Linked DNA regions of Homo sapiens: region 1 is linked to region 2. A link means that fine-mapping ties the variant in region 2 to the expression of a gene that starts in the linked region. Tissue or cell type: whole blood. Region 2 holds a variant in brackets; the other region holds the start of a gene. All regions are shown on one strand. Distances are from middle to middle.

Region 1 (8,149 bases), 39 kb before region 2:
ATCTTCCTTTCTGCTTTCTTGTGACTACCTGCATCTCAAGAGCCACCTGCAATGGTACACTCTCAATAAATACAGGCTTTCTGAATAAATAAATGAATACATGCCACCAGAGTGTTTATGCTTCCGGAAATCCTGCTCCAATCCTGTTCCTATTCAAAGAATCAACTGGAGTGACACACAGCTCTGTTCTTCTTTGTTCTGATCTGTTCAGGTCAGATTAATATATTATTTTTTATTACTCATCAAAAACATCTTCAGAAACTTTTCATCAGAAAGATTTTTTGTGTAAACCTATCTATCTCCTCCAAATCACTATATCTGACTCAGTGTGATTTTTAGTCTCTTATAACCAAATGATATTGATAGAAATTTGTTGCTTTTGAGAACCTAAGTGTATTTCTCTTACAAATTTCAAAGGGAATAAAGTGAAAGTATTATCAGGAAGTGGGAAGAATTCATATGTCAGCTGCAGCCCATCCCTGATTCGAAACCTACAGGCAGAGATGTGAATGGTCAGTAGTGCTAAAGGATTTCTGTGGTTCCTGCAGAACCAGGAGACACTGAGGTGCCAAGACAGGGCCTTACAGATGTTTCAGGAAACCAAGCACCCAGAGGAGTATCTTGCCAGGTTCACCAGGTGCTTCCTACCCAGGCACTGCCAGCAGGACAGTCCTAGCTCTGCACCAGCCCCCTGCCTCTCCTCTGCATCCTGCTCCTTCACCCCCAGCAGCAGGCGGGAGCTAGTGGACTATGCTTAGAAATAGCCAAACCAACGAGGGAGCCCAAGAAAAAGGATCGAGGACCTCTCACCAGGCCAGTGATCATTACTTTTCAAAAACAGCAGAGGCAGAAGCTGGAAGTCATGAAAACTGGGAAAAAGAAACCAAAGAAACAGTGTCTTTGTTGCAACAGTTTCATCCAAGTCCTGGGTATATAAATAAAATAAAATTTTATTTTTTAGCAAAAAAAACCTTTTGCTGTTATTTAAAAATATTCTTGCTGTTTTCCAACCATCAGAGGAGACATGCACTTTTCATTGCTGTTAACAGATCTTTTTTTATTGAAGAAAAATACAATTATGATAACTTCCATAGATTATTTCATTGAATTTCACGTAATTCTATCAAGACCATTGTGAAGTAGATGTGCTCTGCGGATGAGAAACTGAAGCTCAGGCTTTAAACAACTTGCCAAACACAGTTACTAAGAAACAAAACTATTAACCATATCGTATCACCTCAATCATCCTTTTACTTTCCTTTGAAAGTAAAAAACTCACTCTCTTTTGAAAATCCCATCCAGGCTCTACCTGGACAAAAGTGCCTAGCTGCCTCTCTTTCCATAGTGAGCTCTGAATAAGTAGCCTTTGATTAATCCTATAGGTGGTCTCTATTCTTTCGATAATACAGCCTCATAAGAAGAAAAATTGGTGATTTAGCAATTATTGCCTGAATAAATTAAAGTGTTTTATTTAATACTTTAACATTATGAAGAGGGCAATATATGAATTAATATGTAAATAAAATAAAATGACTTTAGACATAATATGAAAAAAAACAGTTTTACATGTTCCAATTTCTCCCTATATGTTTTCCCATCCATTGTGCATTTTACTGTTGTCCCTAAGGGTTTGAACATTTGATTTATATCACCTCTCTGGTCCCTCTGAGTCTATCCACAGACCCCAGGTTATAATAATATAAGCTTGACTTCCTTCAACTCCACCCGGTTGGGGGCAAGGGTAAGGCATGGTACCTGCAGCCTGACTGCTGTTTTGTTTTGTTTTGTGACAGGGTCTTGCTGTGTCGCCCAAGCTGGAGTGCAGTGGTGTCAATCATGGCTCACTGCAGCCTCAAACTTCTGGGCTCAAGGGATCCTCCTGCCTCAGCCTCCTAAGTAGGTTGTTGGGACTGCAGGTGCATACCATAACACCTAATTTTTAAATTTTTAATACAAATGGGGTTTGATTTTTAAAGTTTAAAATTTTTTTGTACAAACAGGGTCTTGCTTTGTTGCCCAGGCTGGTCTGGAACTCTTGGCTTGAAGTGATCTTCCCACCTTGGGCTCCAAACTCAGGTGTGAGTCACTGCACCCAGCCAAGGAGCCTGACTCTTCACAGTGCACTCCTCATCTCATTGGGACATTGGTTGGGCTAGCAGGGAATAACTGTTCTTACTTGGAAAGTACTCCTCTCTGTCAGGCATGTGGCAAGGTCTTCCATATGTGATCTCCTTAACCCACAAACAACCCCACCAGGAGGGTTATATTATCACCACCAATTTACAGATGGGGAAATTCAGGCTTTGAGAGATTAAGGACCTCAGTCAGATTCATAAGCCCAAACTATCTGGGCTCTTAGCCCCACATGCTCCTGCCTCAGTGGGCTACACCTTGGTGAGATGCCTATGTTTCGGTCCACTGGTCCACTCCTGAAGACCAAGGCACAGGTTTAGAGAGACGTACCAGCGGCTAAAGGTACTTCTGCATCCAAGAACTAGAGGTGTCCCGTGTCCCCTTTACAACATTGTTGGCCTCCCTCTGGGCCTTGTACCTTATGTTTATTGCCTCATTTAATCCAGGTAAGGAGTCTTTAGGATTGGTGGCATGTATTCTTTTTATAGACAAGGAAGATGATGCTCAGGAGTTTGGATAACCTGCCCAAGGTCACGCAGTGGAGGAGAGGACTAGAAGGTAAATCAATGGACCTTTCACTACCTTCCCCTTCTCTGGGCTGTAGCAGTGAGTTAACTGGCTCAGACTTGCCCAGCGGAATGCCCTTCAGGACACACTGAGTACTGTAGTAAGAGCTGCATATGCGCTCAGGGAGAATGTGGATAGACGCTGTTTGTGATTCACGGGTAAAGGGCCTTCTCCCAGAGGCAGCAGAGGCAGATCCTGTCTCTGGTGTGCCCTGGCCCCCGACTTGGAGGCCTCCTGGGCCAGGCCAAGACCTTCCCCGGCAGCGATGGTCTCCAGCCACACTCAACTGCCCTGAAGGGACATTTCCTGCTTATTCCCTTGCCCGGCTGTGTCCTCCACCCGGAAGGCCTGTGCCTTCTTCGCCTGCATGTCCTACCCTGAGGAGGCTCCCTTGGTCTTTCATCGCTCTCCCTATGGGTCTTCACGCCTTCCCGAACCACCGCGCCCAAGCAGGAGCACGTTCTCGGCCCTCTTCACAGGGCGCTCCTCCTCACAGGGGTGCCCGGGATTTTTATTCTGTGCCTTCCTGGTGGCTCCTACAAGTCTGGAAGGGCAGGAGGCGCATCTCACTCCTCTGGGTCCCCTCCCCTAGCGCCTGGCGGGAGCCCAGGCTGCATTTGTGGAATTCATGACTTTTTCTCTCCTGCTCAAGCTGAACACATTGCTGGCTCCTGCTCGGGTGGAGCCCGGCTAATTAGAGTGAGGGGCTCCCCGTAGGGCGAAGGGGTGCGCTGTCAGATGTGGCATTCCCGTTTTACGGAGACACACGGTGTCTTACACGCCAGGGAGAGGTCTGAGACGCAAAGAGCCGTCGAGCGGGCTGCGGGATTGCTTCGCTGTCACCTCCGCCTGCAGCCACCCTTCCGCACGCACTTGTGTGTGCACCCAGGCCAACATGGAAGGCGCCATCCTAACTTCTGCCGTGAGCAGGTGGGAGGGAAGAGAGACGAGAGGTATTCCATTGGTTGTCTGGGAAAATGAATTGCACCTTCCCCTCCCTTGCGGAGGATCAACTTTTCCCACCCCCTCGGGTGGGCACTCGCATCCTGGGGCCGGAGCCTGAACCCGGGAGCCAAGGGGCCCCAGTTCCAGGGACGTGAAGCTGAGCGTACAGCGGGCGCTCCCAGACACTGGGGAAAGTGCTTTACGATGTCCCGAGTCCCTCCAGTCTCGCCAGCGGGGCGAGCGTGAGGGTGCCCCGACCGACCAGCGGCCCCGGGTGCAGGGTGGCGGGCCCGGCGGCGCGCGTCCCCCTCCCCCTCCTGGCGGCCCGCACGTGTCGCCCGCGCCGCGCCCCCACGGGTTACGCGCGGGTCCCGCAGCGCCGCGGCCGAGCCGGGCTGCCCGGCCCGCGGACACAGCGCCGGCCGCCGCATCCCGTGCGGGGCCGCGGCGCGATGCTGCGCTGGAATGAGGAAGCGCGGCGGCGAGGGGAGGGCCCGGGCGCGGTGCGCGCGGGGGTGGCGGCGGCGCGCCGAGCGGGCCCGGCGCGGGCGAGCGGGCTGCAGCCGGCGGCGGCGCCAGCAGGTACGGCCCGCACCCGCCGCCGCCCCGGCGGCCTTTGGGGGCTGAGCCGGAGCCCGGCGCGATTGCAAAGTTTTCGTGCGCGGCCCCTCTGGCCCGGAGTTGCGGCTGAGACGCGCGCCGCGCGAGCCGGGGGACTCGGCGACGGGGCGGGGACGGGACGACGCACCCTCTCCGTGTCCCGCTCTGCGCCCTTCTGCGCGCCCCGCTCCCTGTACCGGAGCAGCGATCCGGGAGGCGGCCGAGAGGTGCGCGCGGGGCCGAGCCGGCTGCGGGGCAGGTCGAGCAGGGACCGCCAGCGTGCGTCACCCCAAAGTTTGCGGGGTGGCAGGGCGCGCGCTCTGGCCACCCGCCGCTCTGGGCGGCAGCTGGTGGCAACGCAAGGGCGCGGCGGGGGCGGCCGGCGCGGAGGGGGCCAGGTACGGGGCCCGCGGGCGGCGCTGTGCGCGCGGGGCAGCCGGTCGGCCGGGAGCGCGAAAGCCTGGTCTGAGCCGGCTGGGGGCGGGGAGTGTGGCGGAGAAATGGGGAACAATGCGAGTGAGCAACTTCAGGAAGTCATTGTGAAAGAAAGCTGGGAAGAGCTCCGCGGCCAAGTTAGCAGGACACTCTAACAAGTGACTGCGCGGCCCGCGCCCGGGGCGGTGACTGCGGCAAGCCCCCTGGGTCCCCGCGCGGCGCATCCCAGCCTGGGCGGGACGCTCGGCCGCGGCGAGGCGGGCAAGCCTGGCAGGGCAGAGGGAGCCCCGGCTCCGAGGTTGCTCTTCGCACCCGAGGATCAGTCTTGGCCCCAAAGCGCGACGCACAAATCCACGTGAGTGTTTTCAAATTGAATTTCAATAGGAAAACTTGGGGTAACTGGTGAATTTAAAAAAAAAAAAACACAGTAAAGAAAAGCGGTAAGGTTGGTAGACCCTGGTGTCGCTCAGGTCCGCCTCTCTTTTCTGAGGACAGTGAGAGAGTTCACTTCTGTCAAGCGTCTGTTGCTCTGCACTGTGCCAGCAGGTGCAGGACCAGGCCGACATGGGACACTTCTGAGCAGCCCCGCTGTCACCAGGAGAGGAGTTCTAGCTCCCAACCATATTTAAATTTATGTAGACCTACATATACCCACGGAAGTCAGCCTTTATAAAGTCGTGTGTAAAGAGTTTTCCTTATATTTGAGCCGGGAGCTTTCTTTTTATACTATAAATATGATGAGATCGAGTCTGAACTTAATTTCTGCAAGAGAGGAATTATCCCGGCTTTGAAAAGTTAGTCCTTTTGCTGACCGCAGGTTTGACGCTCAAGTCACCAAACCTTCTCAGGAAAACCCTTAGTAATATTAAGGCATCAGGTTACTTGCGGTTATATTTGAAATGTATTTTAAATATTTGTCAAGCATCGCTGCTGATGCCTAAGGAACCTCGTGAGGGCTTGTTTTTCCTTCTAATTTGGAGGCATCTAATGACCGAAAACCGTAGCGATTCCATAGGGTCTGACCAGGCACAGCTTTCAAATGCAGCTTCCCTCTCTCTAGGGACTGCAGCCCACCCAGACTGAATTTCAATGCGGTGCGCTTTGCTTAGGTTACCCACTCACAATTTCCCACTGCGCCGCAGGCAGTATATTTCAGCTTTGAGATACCTTGTTTTAAAATTCCAGACAAAATGGTGTTGAGGAAATGTCTCCTTACTAGTCCCATCAACTTCTGTTAAAAGAGGAAAATTTATGGAATTTGAAAATACTGCGTATGATATTTAAACTTTCATAGACATTCAAATGCTTTTAAGGCCAGGTTCAATTTGGTTATGAGTCGAGGGGTGGGGGGGACCCACATAGAAATGTCCTGGGTCCTCTTGAGTTTATTTCTTTGTTTGAAGATGTTTGTTCAATGAGTTTTATTGTACTCATCTTTTATATGGAATTTTAAAAAGTAACAATTTCAGTATTATTTATATTAGAATGTGTCAGAATTATTTCCGTGACAAATCAGATCATTTGGGCTATGGCTTAAAATGTACACGAGGCAAATATTCATGACAAGAAGATTCACCTTCTTACGCTGGCATCTTGTAAAATGCAGAACAAGTTAAAGAAATAATGTGTACACATACAAATAATGATGTCACATTAAAAATACTACACTATTCTTGCTTGATGGAATGTATCTGATTTCCAATTTCACCATGAACATATTTCATACATTTTTTACATGAAAAAAAACGTGACTCTTAAGTCTCACAGTCAATCAGAGCTGGTGACCAGAACATTTTATTGAACTAAATGGTCATGTTTTCTTCCCCTTTTGTTTCACGGTGAGAGTTGAAGGAAGGAGTTTAGAAACTCTCCAGTACTTGTTTAATTCATCAGTGTTCTAATTAGAGTGGTACCTCTTGGAAAACTACACACCCCCCTAATGCAGAAACATCATAGCAATAATCACCCACCCTCAGGGTCTCCAGGAGACCACAAGGGCTGCAGATAAAAGTCTGGATGTGTTAGGTTTGACCCTTTCGAAGAGTTTTACACAGGCTCCTAAAGAGAAGATCAGCTGTGGCCGTTTGTAGCCATTTCCTTTGTCGAAAAACTAAGATCGCAGTGAATGTATTAGCCAAGAGGTCTAAAGCCCTGTTGTACTGCAGGCCACTGTCTTCCTTGTTTGACTAGAGACTTGGAGTTTGAGAACAGTGGTTCTTTGGTTTGGATACATTTTTTGTTCTTGATTTGGATGTGTGTGTTTCATGCGTGGTTAATATAGCATATTTTCAATATAAATGTCAAAAATTTTGAAATAGGAAAGAACTCTCTATATATTAATGTACTTATACACACACTTCAAGATTATGCATTTATTAACAGATACATGAAATAAATTCCATGTGCATATGCACATATGCACACAGAGCGTGCACACACACAGCATGCACACAGCGTGGAGTGAGAGGCATGGGGCAGTGTGGAAGAGTTTTAACATCAAACAGACCTGAAATGAGTATTAAAGGCCCCCTTTATTTTTAAACTTTTACTAAAACAAGATGGATTTCCCTATGTTATATAATGGTGAATTTTAGGCATAAATAACGTTTTTTGAGTGTTGCATAATTGTACGTATTAATGTAATGTAACTGTGGTTAACGAAGAATTCATCAAGGATATCACTGTTTTGTGGCATTTTTTTTTTCCTCCTCTAATCTTTGGACTTGTGAAATAATTTCACTATGAAATAAATGTTGGTTCTTGTCATATTCTAAGGGAGATTGATGTAAGTGGCTCCACTCCAGCTTACAGAAGGTAAACCACGACCTTTTTGCGTTCTCTGAAAACGCTTGTCTTCCGATGCCTCTGTTTCTAAGACTGACAAGCACTCTGGGGGCACTGTGACGCCTGCTTCTAGCGGCAGAGTTGCTGCAGCTCCTGTCCTGGCTGTGAACATTGTTCTCTCTCTGGTGTCTCTATGTTCATAACTACAGAGACTTCAGCTCTATTCCATTTCATATTTGTGCTGAATAATCATTCCATTTTATGGGAGAAAACACAAGATGTAAAAGCAACAAGTGACCCATCCTTTGAAGCTTACAAGAAGAGAAACATTAATCTATTTCACGTCTTGAAAACAGATCAGTTTTATTTTGCTCAAAAAGGGCACATGTACATTTTTGATCTAGGTCTTAGAAACGTAGAGTTTCAGAGGATCAGCATTATACACACTGTCACACACACACACACTTAAAATTCAGATGAGGAACAAGATAGGAATGAGGTTTTGTTAGGGACGCAGAGCACCTAAAACCAAAGGATATCGACAGTAACAAAGCTGTTTTTACTGTAGTGCTGACTGAACACTCATGCTGGTGTCTTCATGTGGACCATGGCTTTCTTGTATTTCTTTGCAGTTTAATAAATGACTTCATATCTCAGGTTACCTTTCCACATCTCCTGGAATATA
Region 2 (8,000 bases):
GTGTGTGTGTGTGTGTGTGTGTGTGTGTGTGTGTGTGTGTTGTGGAGGAGGAGCTGGGAAAGGGTGAATCTATTGGGGAGGACTGTGGGGTACATATAATTTGTCCAACAGAAGAGTTGGTTCCAAATGACTCTTTGCTGTTGAAGTCACAAACTGGAAATGTTGGAGCAACTAGACTCTCCATATTCTAAACAAAACACATCTTTAGCATTTAGTTTGGTTGCTGGGGGAGTATGATTAGAAAAGGATTTGGCCAGGCATGGTGGCTTACGCCGTAATCCCAGCACTTTGGGAGGCCGAGGCAGGCAGATCATGAGGTCAGGAGTTTGAGACCAGCCTGGCCAATATGGTGAAACCCCATCTCTACTAAAATATGAAAAAAAAAATTAGCTGGGTGTGGTGGCGTGTGCCTGTAGTCCCAGCTACTGGGAAGGCTGAGGCAGAAGAATCGCTTGAATTCGGGAGGCGGGGGTTGCAGTGAGCCAAGATTGTGGCACTGTACTCCAGCCTGGGTGATAACTCCTTCTCAAAAAAAAAAAAAGAAAGAAAGAAAGAAAAGGATTCTGTGTCTTATTTATGAGCTATTATGCTATTGCTGTTATTTGGGGCTGAATGATTTTTATTTGGGGCTGAATTATTTTTAAATGTAAAGCAAGATGTCTAAATTACATTAATATGTTACTAAATTACTATGATTTTTCCAGAAAAATATTAGCCCATGCAATATTCTTTAATTCCTGTGATTAAGTTGGTCTTCTGCAAAGAAATTTCTGTTGACTTCCTTAGATTAAATGCAGCCCTGAGATAGGTGTGCAGGTCCAGGAAGTGGCCTGTGCAGTTCTCCCTGTGCCTGCAGGGGTGGCTTCTTGAGGATACTTTCGCAGTAAGGGCTTAGCAATATGCGCATGTCTAAGGAGTCTATCAGAAAACTACCTCCACTGTGGAAGGGCTGGGGATTGTATTTTTGTGCTTTGAAGCACCTGACACTTGCTGTAACTCCATTAACTGAAGAGCCGTTTGGTGCCCTAATTTCAGGAGTGAGTTCAGCTGCAGGGATCTCAGAGAGACAGGTCTAGGGTGTGTCTCCGCAAGGCCTGCTGCCAGGAGAGTACTTCCCCCACAGGGGATGTGGCTGCAGGCTGTCGATTTCCACTGAAATCACCAGGAGATGATTCTGGTGAAGCCCTGAACATCCGGTGTCACTCCTCACCAGGCTGGGTGTGATCGATGGAAGGCCTTCAGCATGGCCCCCTGCTGCATGGCAGAGCCCAGTGGCAGATGTGGCTGTTCTCTTTTTCAGAGTGAAGGACTGTTACCCTAGAAGTGAAATCCTGCTGAAATGAGAAAAGTGCTGTTATTATATTTCTACAGGCAGCTATATGATCATTTTTATTATGATTCTTGGAACCTGGCAGAATTTTGACTGCTTTTGCAATATCTCTGTGCTCTCCAGTTGAACTTGGTGGCAATAAAATTAAGAATCTGCCAGTGCCCCCCAAGCATTTCTACTCTGTCCATAATGTTTAGTGACAATTAACTATTACCAGGTGTAGCCACCCTTACTTAATCTTAGTGTTATGGTGCAAGTAATCCTTAGTGAAATTATTGTTCTGTAGAGAATGCTGTGATCTAAGTGAAGTGACTTTCATCCTGAGATGACAATGGAGTTGTTTTTGTCACTGTAAAGGCTGCATTTACTCGCAGTTTTAAAGCATTATTGCTACTTATATATGGTCTCAACACTGATTTTTATATTTGACTTTGTAGCTTTAAGTGTAAAAATTTCTGTTAAGGTTTTATATGTGTTAGTTAATTTTTCCCATTTCAATAACCATGTTTTATTATTGATGGAGTCTCCTAAAAATATACCCTTAAAATCTGCTTGCCCTGTGCCTGCACACATATTTTAAATGTTGGGTATGGAGTCTTTTTTTTTTTTTTTTTAGACAGAGTTTCACTCTGCAGCCCAGGCTGGAGTGCAGTGGTGTGATCTTGGCTCACTGCAGCCTCCACCTCTTGGGTTCAAGTGATTCTCCTGTCCCAGCCTCCCAAGCAGCTGGGATTACACGCCCGCCACCATGCCCAGCTGATTTTTTGCATTTTTAATAGAGATGGGGTTTCACCACGTTGACCAGGCTGGTCTCGAACTCCTGACTTCAGGTAATCCACCTGCCTCAGCCTCCCAAAGTGCTGGGATTACAGATGTGAGGCACCGTATCCAGGCTGTATGGAGTCTTTCTAATCAGGACATAGGCAGACAGTCCTAGCCCAGCTTTATGCCTTATGAGACGCAACAACGTTGAACAGTCATTGTTTGAGGGACAGAGGTTTTACAGATGGATGATAACTAGCATCTGTGGAACATTATTTGTGAAATATAGAAATCAGAAATTCCAGCGTAGCACTGTCCAAGGGGAACATAATTTGACCTGCATATTTGCTGGTCCATTTTTAGTAGTCACATTAAAAAAGAAAAATGACACAGGTGAAATTAATTTGAATATATTTTCTTAATTCAGTATGCTTAAATATTATTTAAGTATGTACTCAATATAAGCAATTGTTAATGAAATATTTTACTCTTTTTGAACTATGTGTTTGAAACCCCGGATGTATTTTTTTTTTATCTTCACCACACATTTCAATTTGGGTTGGTCACATTTCAAGTGCTCAGGAGTCACATGCAGCTAGGGGTTACCTATTGGACAGGCAGGCAGATCTTGAGAGCTCCAAAGAACTGTGTGTCATTATATTGTGGAAAAAAAAAAAACTTTTTAGATTAACCCTTGTTGAATGTTAGCCAAAGACTAGTCATTTATCAACTCTCTAAAAGTAGTTTTTAAATCAATTTGCTTTTCAAAACATTTTCTCAGTGTTGTCACAAATGTATGTGAACATCTGCTTTTTAAGTCTTTCATTTTTTGCCCACATTTGATGTAAAGAAAATCTAGGTCCAGTCCAATTTTAACATCAATTGGGTTTATTTTATGTAGCTGTGTTTTAAGTACAGGTCTTGTACTTGTAGGCATTTTGGTTAAGTACAAAGTAACGAGAATACAACAACATGTGAACATGTCAAACAAATCAGTTTTTCAAAGCTAAGTAGCTGAATTAAATGTAGAAAAACATGACATTTAATTTTTGTCTTCATCCCTTCATTGTATTCCCATGTACTCTATGGTAACTTTTTTAAGTTGGGAAGTCCTCTTTAAATTTTTGAAATGAGGTAGCTGCTTTATAGACATGAGGCAGGTTCCCAGAGAGCGCCCTTGAGGACAGGCTGTAAGTAAACTAAGCTGCAAAGACAGACACCATCACAACTATGGAATTGTTTTGCAAAAATTGTGGAGAGTGATGCCCCTTGATACTTCCTAAAAGATGCTTTTGCAACCTGAT[A/G]AAGCAACCGAGGAGAGGTGGTGAAGGAAAGGCTTTTTTTTTTTTTTTTCAAAGAGAGAAAGAGAAGCAGCAAGCTGCCTGCCTGCAGCCTGAGAAAGCAGTTCCACCTTGGCACCCATGTCCTCATAGCCCAAGCGGGGCCACCCTGGCATGTGAATCTGCTCCGCAGTGTGCAGCCCAGACCCCAGCCTTCCTGTGAAAGGGACACCTCCTGCTGCTAACCGCTGCTCTTCCTGCAGTTCAGGAGACAGCGTGTGCTCCTGTGGCGGCTGCATTTCCTGAGTACACCATGATCCAAAAAGGCACAGATTCGTCATGGAAGCTTTGATTGGGCCGTTACTGTCTTTTGACCTTTCTTGTTTGCTTGCCCTTTTGTTTCTTTCCTCCTTTTTCCTTCCTTCCTGTCTTTCTTCTTCCTTCCTTCCTTTCTTCCTTTTTCTTTTTAATTTTCCTCCTTTCTCTTTCTCCTTTCTTTCCTTCCTTCTTTCCTCTTTTTTTCTTTCCTCCCTCCCTCCCTTTCTTTCTTCCTTCCTTTCTTTCTTCCCTCCTTCCCTCCCCACCCTCCCTCCCTTCCCCTCGTCTCCCTTCCCCTCGTCTCCCTTCCCCTCCCCTCCCTCCCTCCCTTCCTCCTTTTTCTTTCCCTTTCCTCCTTCCTTCCTTCCTCTCTTCTTTTCTCCATCCCTTTCTTCCTTTTAACATTTGATCATGGGTACCATTTCATCAAGATTCTGTTACTTAGGTCCAAGGACTAGTGACCAAATTGTTTTTCCCAGGAGTAAACTTTTCTACAAGACATAGAGAAATGACTGCCAGTGCCATCAGGCACACCATCCTGTGTGATAGGTAACCTAAAATAATGGTACAGCGGGGAGTAACTGGAAGAGTCACAACTACACAAATCTCTTGCATTTTCCTGATCATTAAATGAATTAGGGATTTCCTGGTTTGAGATTTGTGGACAAGGAGAACTACTTCTTTGTACAAGAGGCTTGTGCCAGGAGAAGACACGCTGTGGTTACAATGTTACTGTCTCTAGCTATGGTCATTTCATGTCTTTAACTGAGTGTACCTAGAGTGTAATACAGTGCAGCAGTGATGGGCTGAAGGCCTAATGCACCAGCACACATGCCTGGAAGACCTAACGTTGAGAATCCGCATTTTTTTCATCACTCACATTTATTTTGCATCTCCCTGTTTTGATTACCTTCAGAGACCCAAGCACTTGCTTTTGTATATTTGAGTCTGGGTTTTATTTTCCTTTTAGAAATAGTCCAAAATCCTTTTAGAGCCTAGACCTTTGAATAAAGTGCTAACTTAACCTGAGGAATGCTGTTTTTTTGTTCACAAATAAGGCTTAATTGTGAAGTCGTGAGAATTGCTTTCTGAGCTGACTTATAAATTTACCCACCTCTTTTTCCCCAAACCCCCAAAAAATCCTCCAGAAGGTGAGCCCAGCTTGTTGTAAAAGATTTTGAAGCAGAAGTCCTGGGTTTAAGCTTCAGTTCTCTGCCTTACCAGAATCGGGATGTGTGGGGCAGGCCTACCTCCTCTTTCTTCATCTGCAAAATACATTGAATGAAATCATATTTTTTCCTAAGTATATGACATGTAAAGTGGTATTTCAAAAACTCATTAATCTGCATGACCAGGTCAGAAAAGACACACCTTTTGCCTTGTGTCTAGTGTGTGACTGTCCTCACATGTAGATGACCCAGGCCACATCCGCTGATGTTGTCTTCCTTTACTTCTTTGTCCCTTCCAATGACTCCTTTATGAAGTCAATCAGCAGTGTTTCTAAGCCAGGTTCCTTCTCTTCACACATCCCCAACCCACAGGGCAAGTCATCCACATTTTGCCTCTCTATTTTTTGTGCTTTGGGAAACACATTTTACAACTTCCAAACTATTTGCCTAAGTTCATCTGAGCACATCTAGAATTATTCCACTCCTCTGCATCAGTGCTAAAAGTACAATCATGTATAAGCTGTTATACTCCCGTTATTTTGTACCTCATGTGCAGGTAGATTGCAAGTTCCTTGCAGGCAGGTACTACATCTACTTGAATTGCTTCACGATCACATAACACAATGCAGTGTTAAAAGTAGAAAAGTAATTGACATCTTGACTAACAGAAACACTAAATTCAGTGTATTGTGATGATACCTTTTTAAGAGATAGGCTATAGAAATAGAAAATCATCTTAGTTGGAATTGAAAGTCAAGAAGCAACATTTTAAGTAAGAGATGAAAATACTTAAAAGGGAAAGGAGCAGTGCTTACACAGATGAGGGGAAAAAATAAAATGTATCATCTAAAAATTTAAATCAAATATATTAGGTTGGTGCAAAAGTAACTGCGATTTTTGCCATTAAAAGTAATAGCAAAAACCACGGTTACTTTTGCACCAACCTAATAGATGGGAAAAATAAGAGGAATGAATATTTTAAGCTTTGCTATATAATTAAAATATTCTTAGAAGTCTGGAGTCTGTGAAGGTCACACCCTCTGGTCTTCTCCCAGCCCATAGGGTATAAATAATCTGAATTGACGGCATCCAGGGATCTCAGAAATTATTAGTACATCCCACAGTGAATTACCACCTTACTAAAATATTCATGGGTATATACTATGGATTTGTTTTATCCTATTTAGTCTTAAAAACTATAAAGAAATCTGCAGGCTTATTAACATATTACTCAGAATCATATTGTCTCCAAAGCACAAACTGAATCAGTTACAAGATATTGGACTAGAGATCATGGCAAATCAGAGGTACATAAGACCTAGTTCCGTTGTGGAGCTAAACAAACTGCAGAGACCTAAAGGGAAGCCTTGCACCACACTCTAGGTTTGGAGCTCAGGTTTTGAGTGGTGTCAGCACTCCAGAACACATGGGATCCCCGGGAGGTGGAAATTGAGCCGTCTTTGGAGAATCAGCTAATGAGACAGATGCATGTTAAATGTCTGTTGTGGCCCAGGCACTCTGCTAGGCAGAGGGGTGAACCAGAAGAATGAGATTCATGGGGCCAAAGAATTTGCCTTCTGGTGTAAGAAAAGATGGAGGCAGCTTGGCAGAAAGAAAAAAAAGGTAAAAGATAGAAATGAAATACAGAATAATCTATCTCCTCATCCCACAAGCAATTCTGCCTGGTTTGTGGCTCACGCCTGTAATCCCAGCACTTTGGGAGGCCGAGGCAGGAGGATCACTTGAGGTCAGGAGTTCGAGACTAGCCTGGACCACAAGGTGAAACCTCATCTCTACTAAAAATGCAAAAAAATTTAGGGCCGGGTGCAGTGGCAGTTCTGCCTGGTTTGAACATCTGGTTCAGTTAAAATACTTCATGAAAATATTTAGCTTGATGCACTGAAATCCATCACTGCTTTTGTGGGATGCACTGACTGCAGTCTGACTGTTCTCCTAGTGGAAAGGGGAGCAATAGCTTCTGTCTGCATGTGCATGAAACAGATGGAAATTTAGAAGAGATTCTAGTGCAGACAACTTCATCCCACCCCCGCTGCCCACAGAGCTAGCCATGTGCACGGTGTGTTTGAACAATGTTATGTTGCTGCTGTGCACAGAGATCCCCAGTCTCATAAAACATACTGGATGGAAGGCTGTCGAGAGATCATCAGGCCCCAGTGCATAAGTTCTTCCTAAGCATCCTTAACAGGTGATCACCTCGCCTATTGAGAACCCTCAGGAGGCAGCCCACTTACGGAAGCACTGATTGTTACAAAAGCCCTGAACTAAATCTGCTTGTCTCTAAAGCCAGCCCTGCAGATGTCTGCAGTGTAACTACTTTCTCTTCTCTCAAGCAGTTCAGCCCTTCAAATCATTGACAACAGCTCTACAAAGCCCTCTAAATAGCCCGTTCTCCTGGCTAAAGTGTGTTGGTTTCCTCAGCATATGATGAAATAAACACCATGATGCCTTTGCCTTGCTTTTTCTTGCTGGTCTCACTCTTCCCTGGCATTCTTCAATGTGCCCAAGTCCTTCCTAGAACATTGCACCCAAAGGGCCTTCCTGGTCTTTCCAGGGAATGCAGAATGAAAAAGAAATCCCATCCCCTGCCTCGAAAGGAGCTCTTCTGTGTGTAAGTGTACCTTCCCCCTCAGGGCATAATGGGAAACAGTTTGCCAAAGCTAACTGTGTAATTTCACATGACTCACTGCCGTTAGTCTGAGAAAGCATGGCATATTAAACTCATTTTCCATGCTTCCCAACTTTATTTACTATTCCATTTCTGAGGGGCAGAGAGCTGAGCAGGAATAACACCTTCCTTGCTCCTCCTAATGGGGCACATGTGCACATATAAAATTGTGTTCGATCTTTGCAGCCACGACCCATGTTAACTGTCAACTGAGAACTCATGAGTCAGTTTCTCAGGAACAGCCCTGAAGACATTATCTCCTGCATCTTGTATTTGTGCCTTTGATATTTGGAGGGAAGGGTAGGATCTGGCAATTATCGTTATCTCATTTGGTTCAGTGTATTTCATTTCAGCCTGTTAAGATCTTTTGGAAATACTGTATGTGCTAGTTACAGGGACAGTGATAAATAAGACAGCATTCCTGTCCTTGAGATGCTATTTCCACAGCTCCATGA

The links. PIP is the estimated chance that this variant, and not a neighbour inherited with it, causes the effect.
Region 1: IKZF1 starts here. The variant in region 2 is fine-mapped to the expression of IKZF1 in whole blood (TOPMed, PIP above 0.99).

The regions. Positions count from the first base shown.
Region 1 is chr7:50,299,888-50,308,036 of GRCh38, forward strand. It overlaps IKZF1 (IKAROS family zinc finger 1), which reads left to right and starts at 4,829. Exons shown (of 8, transcript NM_006060.6): 1 at 4,829-5,035. RefSeq lists an enhancer at 2,786-3,287 and a silencer at 4,142-4,941.
Region 2 is chr7:50,339,219-50,347,218 of GRCh38, forward strand. The region is part of intron 3 of IKZF1 (IKAROS family zinc finger 1); the gene reads left to right. Among named protein-coding and RNA genes, the nearest start is that of IKZF1, 39 kb to the left of the region's middle. The variant A/G (reference allele first, on the strand shown) is at 3,397.